Linked DNA regions of Homo sapiens: regions 2 and 3 are each reported to be linked to region 1. The links are microRNA targets in miRTarBase. Many come from high-throughput screens and were not tested one by one. Region 1 holds a microRNA gene; each other region holds the end of a gene's coding sequence.

What was found. Region 1 holds the annotated microRNA hsa-miR-548aq-5p (GAAAGUAAUUGCUGUUUUUGCC, at 1,929-1,950, opposite strand). A microRNA usually pairs through its seed, bases 2 to 8, with sites in the 3' UTR of a target mRNA and lowers its output. Matches are read on the target gene's strand: a 7mer-m8 pairs with bases 2 to 8, a 7mer-A1 pairs with bases 2 to 7 and ends in A, and an 8mer does both.
Region 2: the mRNA of TM9SF3 is a reported target of hsa-miR-548aq-5p. Seed matches in the 3' UTR shown: 7mer-m8 at 1,334-1,340 and 7mer-A1 at 2,587-2,593.
Region 3: miRTarBase lists TM6SF1 as a target of hsa-miR-548aq-5p. Seed matches in the 3' UTR shown: 7mer-m8 at 1,411-1,417.

Annotation. Positions count from the first base shown.
Region 1 is chr3:185,765,955-185,771,134 of GRCh38, forward strand. It overlaps MIR548AQ (microRNA 548aq), which reads right to left and starts at 1,950; the gene lies at 1,893-1,950. All of the region lies in intron 2 of IGF2BP2 (insulin like growth factor 2 mRNA binding protein 2), which reads right to left. RefSeq lists enhancers at 3,352-3,852, 3,853-4,353.
Region 2 is chr10:96,518,154-96,523,153 of GRCh38, reverse strand. TM9SF3 (transmembrane 9 superfamily member 3) reads left to right here. Exons shown (of 15, transcript NM_020123.4): 15 at 824-5,000. The coding sequence ends at 891. Among named protein-coding and RNA genes, the nearest start is that of TLL2, 6.7 kb to the right of the region's middle.
Region 3 is chr15:83,135,794-83,140,793 of GRCh38, forward strand. It overlaps TM6SF1 (transmembrane 6 superfamily member 1), which reads left to right. Exons shown (of 10, transcript NM_023003.5): 10 at 688-1,615. The coding sequence ends at 879. It overlaps HDGFL3 (HDGF like 3), which reads right to left. Exons shown (of 6, transcript NM_016073.4): 6 at 1-3,482. The coding sequence ends at 3,477. Among named protein-coding and RNA genes, the nearest start is that of TM6SF1, 31 kb to the left of the region's middle.

The sequences.
Region 1 (5,180 bases):
GCATGGGTATGGGAATGTCTCCAAATGCAACTTTTCCCATAAAAGAAGTATCTGACTGCCCCATCCCTTTTCCAAAACCAAAGGCACACATGAAGATGGGAGAAAATGTGGAGGTTCTAAGAACCCGATGGCTGGGTAGCAAACTCATCCTTCTCGGGATGCTTTCACCTAAATAAAGCCCAAGGTGCTATACACGGCCACTAAGCATATTTAATTCTACTATCAAAGAGGAAGCTACTACCAGGTCCAGTGAATAGCAATAAAACTATTTAGACAATATCATCAAAGCCCCAAATTTATTTGCCACTACATTAAGGCAAAACAATTTAAAATATTTTAAATTTAAATTTAAATACATTTTAAAATATTTTAAGTATAATGATCTAGAACGTGGACCAACAAACTACGGTTGATAGGTCAAATCCAGCCAGCCACCTGTTTTTGTATAGTCTACAAGCTAAGAATGTTTTTCCCTTTTTTTAAATGGTTGGAAAAAAAATAAAAAGAATATTCCGTGACATGTGAAAATTATACAAAATTCAAATCTCAGTGTCCATAAATAAAGTTTTATTGGAACACAGCCATGCTCATCCATTTACATATTGTCTATGGCTGCTCTTGCAGAGTTGAATAGGTACTAAAGGGATAGTATCATCTAACAAGCCAAAAATATTTACTAGCTAGTGCTTTACAGAAAAAGTTTGCCAACCCCTGGTCTAGAGACAAACCTGGGTTGTGAAAAATACTTTTTACTGATTTCATTTAATACTTTATAGTTTTCCCTGGTATATTCACACCTATTACTTTCATTTTATCTTCACTCCAAGTCAGTGAGTTATATCCTGTTTAGAGATGAGATCGCAAGTTTGAAAGTGGACTTGCCCAAGGTCATGCAGCAGTTAAGAGGCAAGGCCAGGGCTACACCCCAGTTTTCTGACCTATATCCCAAGGTGTTCACAACACACAGCTGTCTTCTTGGATGCCTGCTAATTGTAGCTGCCGTCTTTTAGACATTCTCTCCACATTTGATAGTTCACCTTAGTGTAAAGTCCCTCCTTCCTAAAATAGGACTGAAAACAAACTGCCCAGCCCCACTTCCTGCTAGGATAGAGACACACAACTGTGGACCCAGTGGCTTCCCAATCTGGCAGAGGCAGTTGTGGGAGAAGCTTCTCGATGGTGGCATAGGCAACAGCTCTCTTGGCAGACCAGTTCTGCAGACTATCAAGAAGCTCCACCTGCAGCCTGTTTCTTCAGCCTGTCCGACAATTCTGTGATCTATCTATATACCTCAATGCATTCTTTTGTGCTTAATCTAGCTACTCTGTGGATTCTGTTCTCCACAACGATGACCAGAGACCAACACAAGTTCAGAAGAAATCCTTATAATACTACAGTGTTTCCTAAAACCTTCCAGAACAACTTCCCACCATCATTACTATCTTCTAAAATCCAATCCCATTTCCATAAGATGTTAAAGGATTCTGTAGTTATGTAAATAAATTATAAAACATCAAGTTAAACAGATTTCTTTACTACAGGACTTCTCAGAGCCTTAAAATGCATGTGTGCTTCACAAATCTCCAAGAAAGGGACAAGTATACAACATTTGAAAAATGTATTTGACCACTGAACCATTTTTTAATATGTCTTACCAGTACAGTAATATATTTGGGGAAATATTGATCAACATACCTTCTACTTGGAAAAAAAAGTTTATAATTATAAAATATTTTAAAATAAGGCTGCTGAAATGAGGAATACAATTCTGGAATATGTTGGGTGAAATTATGGAATGTATTAGGGTTGAAAATGATTTCATGTACTGTTCAGGGGATATATTTTAGTGCAGCCATTTTGGAAAGCATTGGCAATGATTATTTTAGGTTAATGCAAAAGTAATTGCAGTTTTTGCCACTGAAAGTAATGGCAAAAACAGCAATTACTTTCACACCAACCTAAATAGCAAGTGTCTTAATCCTTATATTACTCTTTAATCCAATTATACTTCTAGGAATATTTCCTTAAAAAAATCTGAAATGTGGACAATTACCAGATCCTCAGCCCTTATATACACTTTTGTGACTTTATGCAAAAGAAAAAAATGTTCTCACTTGAGAAAAACACAGAAGGGTACTGCTTTGTCTTTCTATTCAGGTCATAACTTCCTTATGATTGAGGGAAAAGAGACAAAGGGGCTGTTATTTTCTTAGTGGCATCATGACACTATATAAACATTTATTTAGCTCTTTACCTCCTACAGAAAAAGGAAAAAGGAAAGTTGAGAACTTTCCCAAGAGTATCTCTATTGTTAATTAAAACATCCTCAGCCAGATGCATGGCATCCCTGTAAGTGAAACAGTGAAGAACCTGGGCGACATGAGTATGTAGTTAGAGGTGTCACGATGCTGAGCTAACCCGAGGGCTGATGATGAACTACAAACCTTCAGGATAGATTTTTTTCTGTGGGATTCAGTTTAACTTGGTAAAGAATATGATAATGATAAAGAACTGCATGTTAACCCTTTTAAGTCAATCTAAGTATTTTTAAAAGGTCCTTTAATACTACTTAAATATTTAAATTATATTTTGAATATGTATATACTTAATACATATAAAAATGATATAAATTTTCTGTCTAATTCTGTGGAGGACTGAAGGAAGCTTCAAATTCAGCAATTTGTAGATTCAGATCATGTGACTAGGACAGCACTGCCCTCTAGTGGTGGAGTATCATGCTTTCACTTTGAAGCTTCTGATAGATCAATAAGCACCTTTAAAAGGTTGAATCTAAGCCAGGCGTGGTGGCTTTTACGCCTGTCATCCCAGCACTTTGGGAGGCTGAGGCGGGTGGATCACCTGAGGTCAGGGAGACTAGCCTGACCAATATGGTGAAACTCCATCTCTTCTAAAAATACAGAAATTAGCCAGATGTGGTGGCATGCGCCTGTAGTCCCAGCTACTCAGGAGGCTGAGACAGGAGAATTGCTTGAACCTGGGAGGTGGAGATTGCAGTGAGCTGAGATTACGCCACTGCACTCCAGCCTGGGCGACAGAGTGAGACTCCGTCTCAAAACAAATCAAAACAAAAAAAAGGTTGAACCTGGGCGGGGCGCGGTGGTCCACGCCTGTAATCCCAACATTTTGAGAGACCAAGGTGGGAGAATCACTTGAGGCCAGGCATTTGAGATCAGCCTGGGCAACACAGCAAAACCCCCACCTCTATAAAAATTTTTAAAAATTAGCTGAGCATGGGGAGGCTGAGGAGGATGGGAGGATGGATTAGGCCAAGGAGTTGAGGTGGAAGGAGGACTTGGCCCCTCGAGTTTGAGGTTGCAATGAGACATCCATGATCATGCCACTGCACTCCAGCCTAAGAGACAGAATGACACCCTGTCTCCAAATTTTTTTTAAAAAAAAGGTGAATCTATTGTTTAAAACGGAAGTTATAAAGAGACAGCAAACACTCAGAAGAACCTGTAACTCTTAAATAGTGAATGCCATAACCAAGTAAAGGTATTCAGCTCAAAGGCCACTCTTCAATTTGCTCTCAAGTGCATTTTACAGACAGAGAAATCATGGTCTCCAAAGATTAGAAATGGCCTGGCACGGTGGCTCACGCTTGTAATCCCAACACTTTTGGAGGTTTGAGGCAGAAGGATAGCTTGAGCCCAGGAGTTCAAGACCATCCTGGGCAACATACCAAGATCCTATTTCTACAAAAAATTTTAATTAATGGTGATGCACACCTGTGGTCCCAGCTACTCAGGAGGCTGAGGTGGAAGGATCGATTGAGCCCAGGAGGTCAATGCTGCAGTGAACTGTGGTCACTGCCACTGCACTCCCGCCTGGATGATAGAATGAGACCCTGTCTCCAAAAAAAAAAAAAAAAAAAAAAAGAAACAATTTCATCTCAGTCACAAAACCACATGAACCAAGAGGTCTGTGTTTCTGTCATGCTTACTATCTATTAGGCAAAATCCACAAACCATCTTTTCACATTTTATCTCTAAAGAAGTGCCAACTGCCTATAGCAGCAGCCACTGTATCCCTCTTCCCAAAGTTCGGCCCCTGGGGACCAGAGGCCCACACAAACCCAATAAGATCTGGGAACCCCTGGAAGGGAAACGAATCCTGAGCCTTCTCTCTATGTCCTCAAGGAAGCAGAACTGGGGGATGGTCTCTCTCTTAGGCTCCTATGTCAACAGAATCTACGTCTCATAAGAAGGGATGTGGTGGCGGGCGTGTAATTTACATCAGAAAAATGAAGTCTCTACCCTTGCTCTGTCATAGCACACCACATAGTTAGGACTCAGGACTGGTCGAGCAGGACCGGCCAACCCGAGGGAGCATATCTGGTGATTTACGGGAAACTCCAGTTCTCTCAAGGAAAATGGGATGTGATAGGAAAAGCAAAACCAACGAACAGAGATTCACCATGTCAGAGTGAGAAAGAGTAGTGGGTTATATTTAAAAAGGATTTTATACATTGGAAAGTATTTTCACAAGCATCTTATTTGCTCCTTTGGTTATGACCCCATAGGCCTTTATTCCAAGGCACCAGATTTTAAAAAGACTGAGAAGTTAAATGGCTTGCCTGTGTAATCTGGAAAATTGGTAACAGACTCAAGACTCACCCAGAGTCTGTTATGTTTCCCATAGCACCTGTGACACCCAAGGTGGAGGTGCCTTAATTACCAGCACATACAAATTATGAGAGGAGGAGCCCCTCTAGGCAGTCACAGTCAGAGCAGCACAAAGAGACTGTAATAGATGATCTTGTGGAAAGGTTTCTGTTCTATTTGTCTTTTAGTTAGAGACAGGGTCTCACTGTTGCCCAGGCTGGAGTGCAGTGGCACAATTATAGCTCACTGCAGCTTCAAACTCCTGGGCTGAAGTAATCCTCCCACCTCAGCCTCTCTAGCAGCTAGGACTACAGATGTGCATGACCACATCTGGCTAATTTATCCTTTTTTGGTAGAGAGGGAGACTCACTATGTTGCCCAGACTGGTCTTGAACTCTTGGCCTCAAGCAATCTTCCCACCTTGGCTACCCAAAATGCTGAAATTATAGGCATGAGCCATGGCACCCAGCAAACGGCTTTTAAAAATCCAAAGAACAGTCACAGAACTTAAAAAGTAAACAAGCCTAAGACTAGAAGAGGGACAAGGAGGCCTAC
Region 2 (5,000 bases), not on the chromosome of region 1:
CAAAAGTAATTGTAAAGCTGCAAATACTTTTGCACCAACCTATATTTGCAATAAAGAACCATCTAGTTCATTCATTCATTCAACAAATATTTACCAAGTATCTTATATGCCAGGCACTCTTTTAGACACAGGAGATAAATATTTTACTTAACAAAACAAACATCCCTGATTTCTGGTGTTTTAAGCTCTGGTTGAGGCTAATTGTTAAAAAACAACATTTCAAAACTTCTGACCCACTTACCTCTCTGTCCTGTCTATTCCCGCAAATATGTCATCCCTACTACCAACTACACAGCTTCTACAACTTAAAAATAAAAAAGAAGCTGTCAGAAAATGCCTCTTCTCTAGAGCTTCAACTGCTATTGGGACATGGTTCCCTGTCCTTCCTTAAGAGAATTTTCAGTCACTTCTAACTATTTATCTATTGGATTTTGGGAAGATATATTGATTTTTACTTTAATGACCTAGAATAGTATATCTTCAAATCAAAGAAGGCATGTTTTTTGATTTAACAACCTTTTGCCATTATCAAATTATTCTTGCTTTATAAGAGATGTATTTTAATTCTGTAGTTACTGATTATACAAGAAATAATTGCTACTTGATTAGACTTGGCGTATGATGGTCAGACTCAGTGTATTATGGTATCAGGTGATTTGCAAAGCAAATGATACAGTTTTAGTAAGTTCAGAGAGAATACTAACATAAGGATATTTTCTTTAAAAAAGAATAACTTTCCAGAGCATAGAGTATTTAGTGTTTTTAAATGATGGATACTGCTCTGTATGTATTTGTTTCAAAACATCTTATTTTATCTTTGCAGGAGCGATTGGTTACATGGGAACAAGTGCCTTTGTCCGAAAAATCTATACTAATGTGAAAATTGACTAGAGACCCAAGAAAACCTGGAACTTTGGATCAATTTCTTTTTCATAGGGGTGGAACTTGCACAGCAAAAACAAACAAACGCAAGAAGAGATTTGGGCTTTAACACACTGGGTACTTTGTGGGTCTCTCTTTCGTCGGTGGCTTAAAGTAACATCTATTTCCATTGATCCTAGGTTCTTCCTGACTGCTTTCTCCAACTGTTCACAGCAAATGCTTGGATTTTATGCAGTAGGCATTACTACAGTACATGGCTAATCTTCCCAAAAACTAGCTCATTAAAGATGAAATAGACCAGCTCTCTTCAGTGAAGAGGACAAATAGTTTATTTAAAGCATTTGTTCCAATAAAATAAATAGAGGGAAACTTGGATGCTAAAATTACATGAATAGGAATCTTCCTGGCACTTAGTGTTTCTATGTTATTGAAAAATGATGTTCCAGAAAGATTACTTTTTTCCTCTTATTTTTACTGCCATTGTCGACCTATTGTGGGACATTTTTATATATTGAATCTGGGTTCTTTTTTGACTTTTTTTTTTTCCCAATCCAACAGCATCCTTTTTTTTAAAAGAGAGAATTAGAAAATATTAAATCCTGCATGTAATATATCTGCTGTCATCTTAGTTGGACCAACTTCCCATTTATTTATCTTAAAACTATACAGTTACATCTTAATTCCATCCAAAGAAGATACAGTTTGAAGACAGAAGTGTACTCTCTACAATGCAATTTACTGTACAGTTAGAAAGCAAAGTGTTAAATGGAGAAGATACTTGTTTTTATTAAACATTTTGAGATTTAGATAAACTACATTTTAACTGAATGTCTAAAGTGATTATCTTTTTTCCCCCCAAGTTAGTCTTAAATCTTTTGGGTTTGAATGAAGGTTTTACATAAGAAATTATTAAAAACAAGGGGGGTGGGTAATAAATGTATATAACATTAAATAATGTAACGTAGGTGTAGATTCCCAAATGCATTTGGATGTACAGATCGACTACAGAGTACTTTTTTCTTATGATGATTGGTGTAGAAATGTGTGATTTGGGTGGGCTTTTACATCTTGCCTACCATTGCATGAAACATTGGGGTTTCTTCAAAATGTGTGTGTCATACTTCTTTTGGGAGGGGGGTTGTTTTCTTCTGTTTATTTTCTGAGACTCCTACAGGAGCCAAATTTGTAATTTAGAGACACTTAATTTTGTTAATCCTGTCTGGGACACTTAAGTAACATCTAAAGCATTATTGCTTTAGAATGTTCAAATAAAATTTCCTGACCAAATTGTTTTGTGGAAATAGATGTGTTTGCAATTTGAAGATATCTTTCTGTCCAGAAGGCAAAATTACCGAATGCCATTTTTAAAAGTATGCTATAAACTATGCTACTCTCATACAGGGGACCCGTATTTTAAAATCTCCAGACTTGCTTACATCTAGATTATCCAGCACAATCATAAAGTGAATGACAAACCCTTTGAATGAAATTGTGGCACAAAATCTGTTCAGGTTGGTGTACCGTGTAAAGTGGGGATGGGGTAAAAGTGGTTAACGTACTGTTGGATCAACAAATAAAGGTTACAGTTTTGTAAGAGAAGTGATTTGAATACATTTTTCTGGAACTATTCATAATATGAAGTTTTCCTAGAACCACTGAGTTTCTAGTTTAATAGTTTGCTATGCAAATGACCACCTAAAACAATACTTTATATTGTTATTTTTAGAAAGACTCAAAACACCTGTATTTAAACCTTAATATGAAAATCATGCAATTAATAGTTACACAAGATGTTTTCATTACAAAATATGTACCTATCTATTGATGGACTCTACATCCTATATTGTGACATGTAAGTCCTTTAAAAGGTGAAAAGTATGATTTCTTACCACTTAAGTATGATTGATATGATCCAACAAATTTGATCAGAAGCTGTAGGTAAATCCTCTTCTGAAGCCAAAATGGTATATTAAATATAATTTATTGGTACTTCCATTTTCTCTTCCTTCTTACTTGCCTTTAAGATCTTATAAAAAAGAAACTAAAAGTTAATATTTAGTTGCCTATATTATGTAACCTTTTAACTATATATAAAGTACTTTTTTGGTTTCTTTCTCACCACTTTTATTCAAAAGTACTTTTAACATACCAATACATAGTCTGTCTGATGGGAGTATAAATTGGACAGTAAGGTTTTGTCTTAATAAAATGAAATTTGTTTCTCATGATATGAATCTTGCAGGTAAGATGTAGGGTTTATTGAAAATGTGTGGGTTAAATGCTTTCAGGTACACCAATTCTTTCTACTAAATTGAGCTCTATTTGAAGTTCTTTGGAATCTGTGGTGAAAAATAATTTTCTGATTTCCAAATACATTAAGAGCATTAAATGAATATTAATCACCTTTAAAGTCTTTTAGAAAAGGACTTGTATTGGTTTTTGGCTGCATAGAGGGGTTGAATAAGTGTATGTATGTGTGTGCGTGTGTGTGTGTCTTCTTAAAGAAGATGTAATTCACAAATAGTTTAGCTCCCTAGCGCTCAGTTGTAGAATAGAAAATAGAACATTATTCAAGTTAATTGAAAGGTGAGGTTTTTATACCCCCACTAATGCTGTGTATCTGTCTTTCGTTTGTTAACATTATTTGCTTAATTTCTTTCAACTCACACTTTGGATAATACTATCAAAAACTAAGGCTAAACATTCCTTGTGTATCTTTAAGCATGCTTCTCCTGAAATTTAACTACATTAGTAGTTGACATTTGTATACATATATCCTAATACAAGAGTAGGATAAGGTGGAAATGTAATGGCCTGAGGGATGGTGAAGCATTCTTTTAGTATTTTTCATCATGTTGGGCTCCTAGATTGTACTGGGGTTGCCCATAAATCAAACCCCATACTCTTAGAATTCATTATATTATGGTGATATCCGAACCTAGTGAATGGTATGCTTGGGTGTTTTCCATTGAGAGTGGATGGACCTCTTTATAAAGTTGGTTGCTGCAAAATCCAGTTCTTCCAAAAGCCACTTTATTTAGGGTTTATTCACAAGTCATATCCATTTTGGTACAGTGTTTGTTTCCTAATATTTATTAACCACCTTATACCAAATGTCTTGCAAAGAAATGTTATTAAAACCTTGAATTTTTACAAATGTAAAAAACAAAAAGTGTATTAATGTATTTGTTCAGGAAAAGCTACATACCGAAGGGCTTTTGTATATGAATTCTGTGGTGGGGAGACCCATTTGTAATCTATATGGCAGTTCCATCTGGGTTTTAAGTTTAGATTTCACCGTGTCTTAGTGCTTCATTCTATTGGTTTATTGGAACATGTAATAAATAGGAGTAGTGATGTATTAAAACACAAGTATTCATTAATGTTTTATATCTTCACTAAAATTCTATAGTTATGAAACTATCAATCAAGGTGTTATATTTCAGTCAGAAGTGAAAATTTATGAAGAGTATTTGGAAGTGTGTACAGAAATAAACTAGACTTACAGGTAGGCTAGATCAGAACGTTAACATATGAACCTGCAGAAATCTGGTAAGACTTAAATTCAGTGTGAGGAATAACTCTAGTTCTCTCCTATGAGCATTTCCTAAAAGCCATCTGATTTGGCATTCTTACTGGAGCTGCAGACAGAAATCTACAAAGACAAAAGTAAACAAAATTAAGTTATTATTCCACTGTTAGGAATGGAAATAAACTTGTGAAGTCTGTTTATTTTGAAGTATTGGTGAACTAGGCTTGCTAATTGATAACTGCAGCAGTTTGTGTTTACTCCAGTTCATCAGCTTAGGTCATTTGAAAGATATAAGAGCTTAAGGCAAGAAAGAAATAACATGGAATTCTATTTGAAGGACAACAGAACATTCTTGGAAAAGCAGCTCCAGTTGGTTTTTCAACTGTCAAACTTGAATGTGTAAGTCCCCACAGAGCATGGACAGTCGGTGCAGAGTTCCAAGGAAACAATTATTGCCTGATGACCACTTCCATTTTGTATACACTCTTTGGTTCGTATAGGCCATATTCCAACTGGCTTTTTAGTAATAGAAATCCAGTATATAATGTATCAAATACAATTGAGGTTCTAACCTAGTGTGTTAATT
Region 3 (5,000 bases), not on the chromosome of region 1:
TTTGCCATTTTACAAAGAGCAACCGTACTCCTACCTCCACCCAAGTTGGTAACAACCTTATCTTACAAACAACCCTTAATATTTTAAAAGCTGCAGAAAAAACAAATACATGAATAAATGAATAAACAAAAAACACATAGGGAAAGGGTATGAGCTCTTGCTGCAAGGAGTAGATGAAAGACTGATAAATGAAGCTGAGGTCCCCCCAGTGCTTCCCTTTCAATAGTTTATGCTAAAAATATTTGTTTTTTAAAACTCTGCGCTTTCTTCATTTTTATTGGAACGCAATTTGTGAACCACAACTGAGTCTGTATGCAGGATCTCCAGAACGCAAATCAGAAAAAAATTTGAGATTTTATTCAGATTTTTCTATTAGATTGAGCCACTAATGTTCGGTAAGGGGCACTTGATGGTTAAAAAACACAACTGGCATGATAAAACTACACTAAATAATATCTACTTTATTTGAACAGTCATATCAAGAATGGCCCTAAATTTAATCAAGGACTAAATTTAATGAAAGACTCTGACATTAAAGACTCTGGATTGTTTGAAGGTATTTTGCCTGCAGGTGAGACTGGTTTTGAGGGCACAGAAACGTAGCCTGAATGAACCATTCAGAACTCATCATGCATCCAACTGAACACGTTTCATGCTTACTCAATTTTTTTTTTTTAAATGCAACAGGCTCAGTTTTCTCACATTGGTGCATCTCTTCATGCTAGAACTGCTTATGTCTACAGAGTCCCTGAAGAAGCAAAAATCCTTTTTTTAGCATTAAACATAGCATATGGAGTTCTTCCTCAGCTCTTGGCCTATCGTTGTATCTACAAACCAGAGTTCTTCATAAAAACAAAGGCAGAAGAAAAAGTGGAATAAAAATATTACTTCATGTTCCTCCTTTCTAAATTACTAACTTTTGTTATACTGGTACTGATATTTTGTCCCATTTCACTCTCTTCTCATACGTGAGTACTTAAGAATATGTACATTCTTGCTCTGCACTGTATGTGTGAGCTATATGGTATTGTGTAAATTTTTTTTGAAGGAAAATGGAAATTCTTGAGAAACAGTTTGTTTAAAGAAATATATTCAAAATCATTTGTGAATAAACTTGATCATCCATCTCAATATTGTTTGACATATAAAATAATTATAAGTGTAAAAAATTACAATTTAGTGCCAACAGTAGTGAGCATGAAATGAAACTATTCAAAAGAGAATATGGCCTGTGCATATTAAAAAATTCAAAACAGTGAATGCAGACTGGAGGAGTAACTTTTGCAAATAAGATGAATATGCTTCATTATTAAACTCAATATAAAAGGCAAATCATCAGAATATTTTTAAATGTTGTTTGAAAAATGTTTTCCCAAGGAAAGTTTATTATTTGCTGCTGTTTCAAGAAAATTACTTTTACTAAATTTTTTTGTGTGAATTTAAACAGCTAAATAGGGATCAGTAACTTTATCTCTATCCTTAATGAACATTTGTTTTATTGGTGGCTGGAAATATTTCTATTGTATTTCTGTGTATATTTTTAATAAAATTATTTTTGGCCTCTTATAAAGACAAATCTTATTAAATTTGAAACATTTCATATATACACATAAAACGCTTTTAAAGAAAATTTGTGAGTTGTATATTCCAATTCAAAATGCCATCTACATTCCCCTTATGTTTCAGTGTGAGCAATGAAGAGGTCTTTTGATGAATTAAATTTCATTAATTAAAAAATACATTCAAATATTCAAAATTAAAAAGGACCTTTTAAGGAAGAAGTATTAGATCGACATCCCTACTATCTTTTTATGAACTTTTCATGTTTGGGATTGTATGTTGAGTATACTAGAGAAAATCAGTATTCACTAAATGAAAGAAACACACCAAAAATACAAACAGCCACCTCCTCACTGTGCCCTGGAATGATAAATGGACTGGTGCTTTCATACCCTTAGCTGCCATCATCACCATCATCATTATTAACGGCCCTAGGCTTTTAGGTCTGCTCACATTTTCTCATGTTTTTATTAGCTCTCATCAAGAAAACCAAAAGAAAATGGGATACAAATCAATGCATGGATAATATCAAATTACAAAATCTAGGGTCCACTGGGCTGGTAAATATGTAAGTGTAAGCAAATCATGTAGTCATCTCCCCATCATCCCCTACAGTGTTTTCAAATAATCTAAAACCCAGAGAGTGTTTAAAAAAAAAAAAAGAAAGAAAAAGAAAAACCCTCACCTGCACTTGATTCTATTGTCAGCTTGCTGTGAACAATTTTTGCTTTAATATATGAATTACATTAATACCTCACGTTACATATATGAAGCCAAATTACACTAACTTAGTTTGCTTACAACCTCAAATCTTACTCCCAGTACACATTCCAATAAATTTATTCTGTAAAAACAATACATTTTTTTGTTTTTGATTTTTTTACAGTAAACTTTTCAACTACAAACCGTGAATACGCGAAAGATGTTCCAAGGACAAGCATTAACAGGATTGATAAAACCCAAACTGACTAAATGTGTTCTCACAATATAAGCTGGCATAAAAATAAATAAAATTCTCTATTATCACAATAGCAACAATAATGTACACATAATAATGGTTTAAGGATGAATATTAACTATTCTAATTGTAGTTCCAAAAGAAAACAGTTTATTTTAAAAGTCTACATTTAAAAGTCAATGCTTTGTCTGGTTTCCCATAGGGCTGTTGCTGATTCCAGCTTTAAAATGTAAAGTATCCACCTTGAGTGCTTAGCTCAAAATTGTATTGGCACTGGGAAAAAAATAAATCATTGCCTTTATTTTGGAGTAACACAAAAAGACTCACTAACTTCACATATAGAAACTTAGTTTGTGTACATAACAATATGAATTTTGAGAAGTATAAGCTGTCAACTAGCTATTTCTAATACGGAATAGATATTTTACAATATGGTTAAACTTTACACATGGCCTCAAAACTGAAGGACAATTTTAATTTCGTCTTCAATATACCAACGTTATGTATTTAGGAATTAATTCCTGGGTTCTGTCACAGAGAGGAAATTCCATTCTTAAGCATTATGTTGAGTGGTCATCTAAAAAATGTTAATTTATATTTAACTGAGTGTTTGATGATGGTGGGGTCAAGGCAGGAAAACGATGATCATAACTGCCTTGATAAAAGGATCCTAGACATGTATAAGTCTGCGCAAAAATCTTGATAATCCTTAGTGGTTAAGGGCAACTTCATGCAACCAAATAACATGAAATTAAATCAGTAACTTTTAAAAAAGGCTAAAATGTCTTTTCCCCCCGAAACACAACAGAGAGGAATATGAATAATGTACATACAAACTGGGGTTCTGTCAATGACAACAAGGACTATGTGTTGGTTCATATCAAATCCAAGAATATTAGACAACCAAACATATAACCTTCTTGTGGTTTCTCTTAATATGCAGCATTCATTATGGTAGTTAGGTCTGTAAAAAAAAAAAAAAGAAAGAAAACAAGCCTTTAGATGATTTAGGATACTAACAATGAGAGCTATCCACACCTAGATAGTACATAATTGGGTTTTCTGAAATTTTAATATGCACTGCAGCATTAACAATACTTACTGAGCAAGAGCAGCTTCTGTGGCTTTGCTTTAGACCTGTCAGTGCAAAAAGTTAAAGGAAATCCTAGGGTATTTTTAGTGTCCCATAGAAAAAAATTATAAACCTTGTCTACTGTCTGTTAGGACAGAGTGCAGCAGTGCACATTCTACAATTCTAGGACTATGTTTATTGCTGGAATACATCATCAGTGGAGAAATTGATATAATCTATCTTTGTGAGGACATTCTTCAGAAAGAAAGGTAAGCTGTGTAAAATTTAAAAAGCACTTAGAGTGTGCACCAATTAATCTTCAGAATATTTATAACTTAATTACTTGTGACACATAGCTCAAACAAATGTAGAAGTTAATCATGATGTACAAAGTCTCTGACTTCTTGCTTTTAAAAAAAACATAAAGAATAAGAGGAAGCCTAGATTTCTTTTAAAATTTAGATGGCATCCGTGTGACAAACAGAAAATAAAACATTTGTTTCATAAAAGAATTATGTTTCTATTTGGGTCCCACTTTAAATTGTGTCTGGTTCTATTTCCCCAAAAGGATGCTATTTTTTCCCCCTCATCATTAACCCAAATATATTAAACCCCCTAGTAATACCCTCATGGGATGAATGAAAGAGGGAACTCAGCCCTCAAATATTTTTTCTGAAAACAGCCTGCTTCCACTCTTAATTTCACTAAATGAATGAACATGTTTGTAAGCACATGTGCACACTGATGGGTATGTTCTCATTCAGACAGCCCAACATGTATACTAAATGGTATATATTATAATAAACGATTCCAGGACCTTCAAAGGAGAGAGAGTTACCAAAACTTCCATCCCCCTAAGATGGCAGAAATATACTTTTTATCCTTCTGTCCCTATTAAAATGAGGAAGTAAATCTTTAAAAAAAAAGTTTGAAATTTGTGAACTTAAAAAATGGAGTGCCTGGTGACTCCTAATTATTTCTTAACAAAAACACCAGTTATAAGATTATACTCACAGATACTTTGGAGGATCTTCCTCCCTTGTGAAGGAGGAAGACACCCATTAGAACAATGAAAAATTGTTAGTCAACCAAAGAAAGTTTTTTTTTTTTTTTTTTGAGACAGAGTCTCGCTCTGTCACCTAGGCTGGAGTACAGTGGCGTGATGTGAGCTCACTGCAACCTCCACCTCCCCGGTTCAAGTGATTCTCCTGCCTCAGCCTCCTGAGTAGCTGGGATTACAGGTGTGTGCTACCATGCCCGGCTAATTTTTGTATTTTTAGTAGAGATGGGATTTCACCACGTTGGTCAGGCTGGTCTCAAACTCCTGACCTTGTGATCTGCCTGGCTCGGCGGCCTCCCAAAGTGCTGGGATTACAGGCGTGAGCCACCGTGCCTGGCCGAAACCTTCTT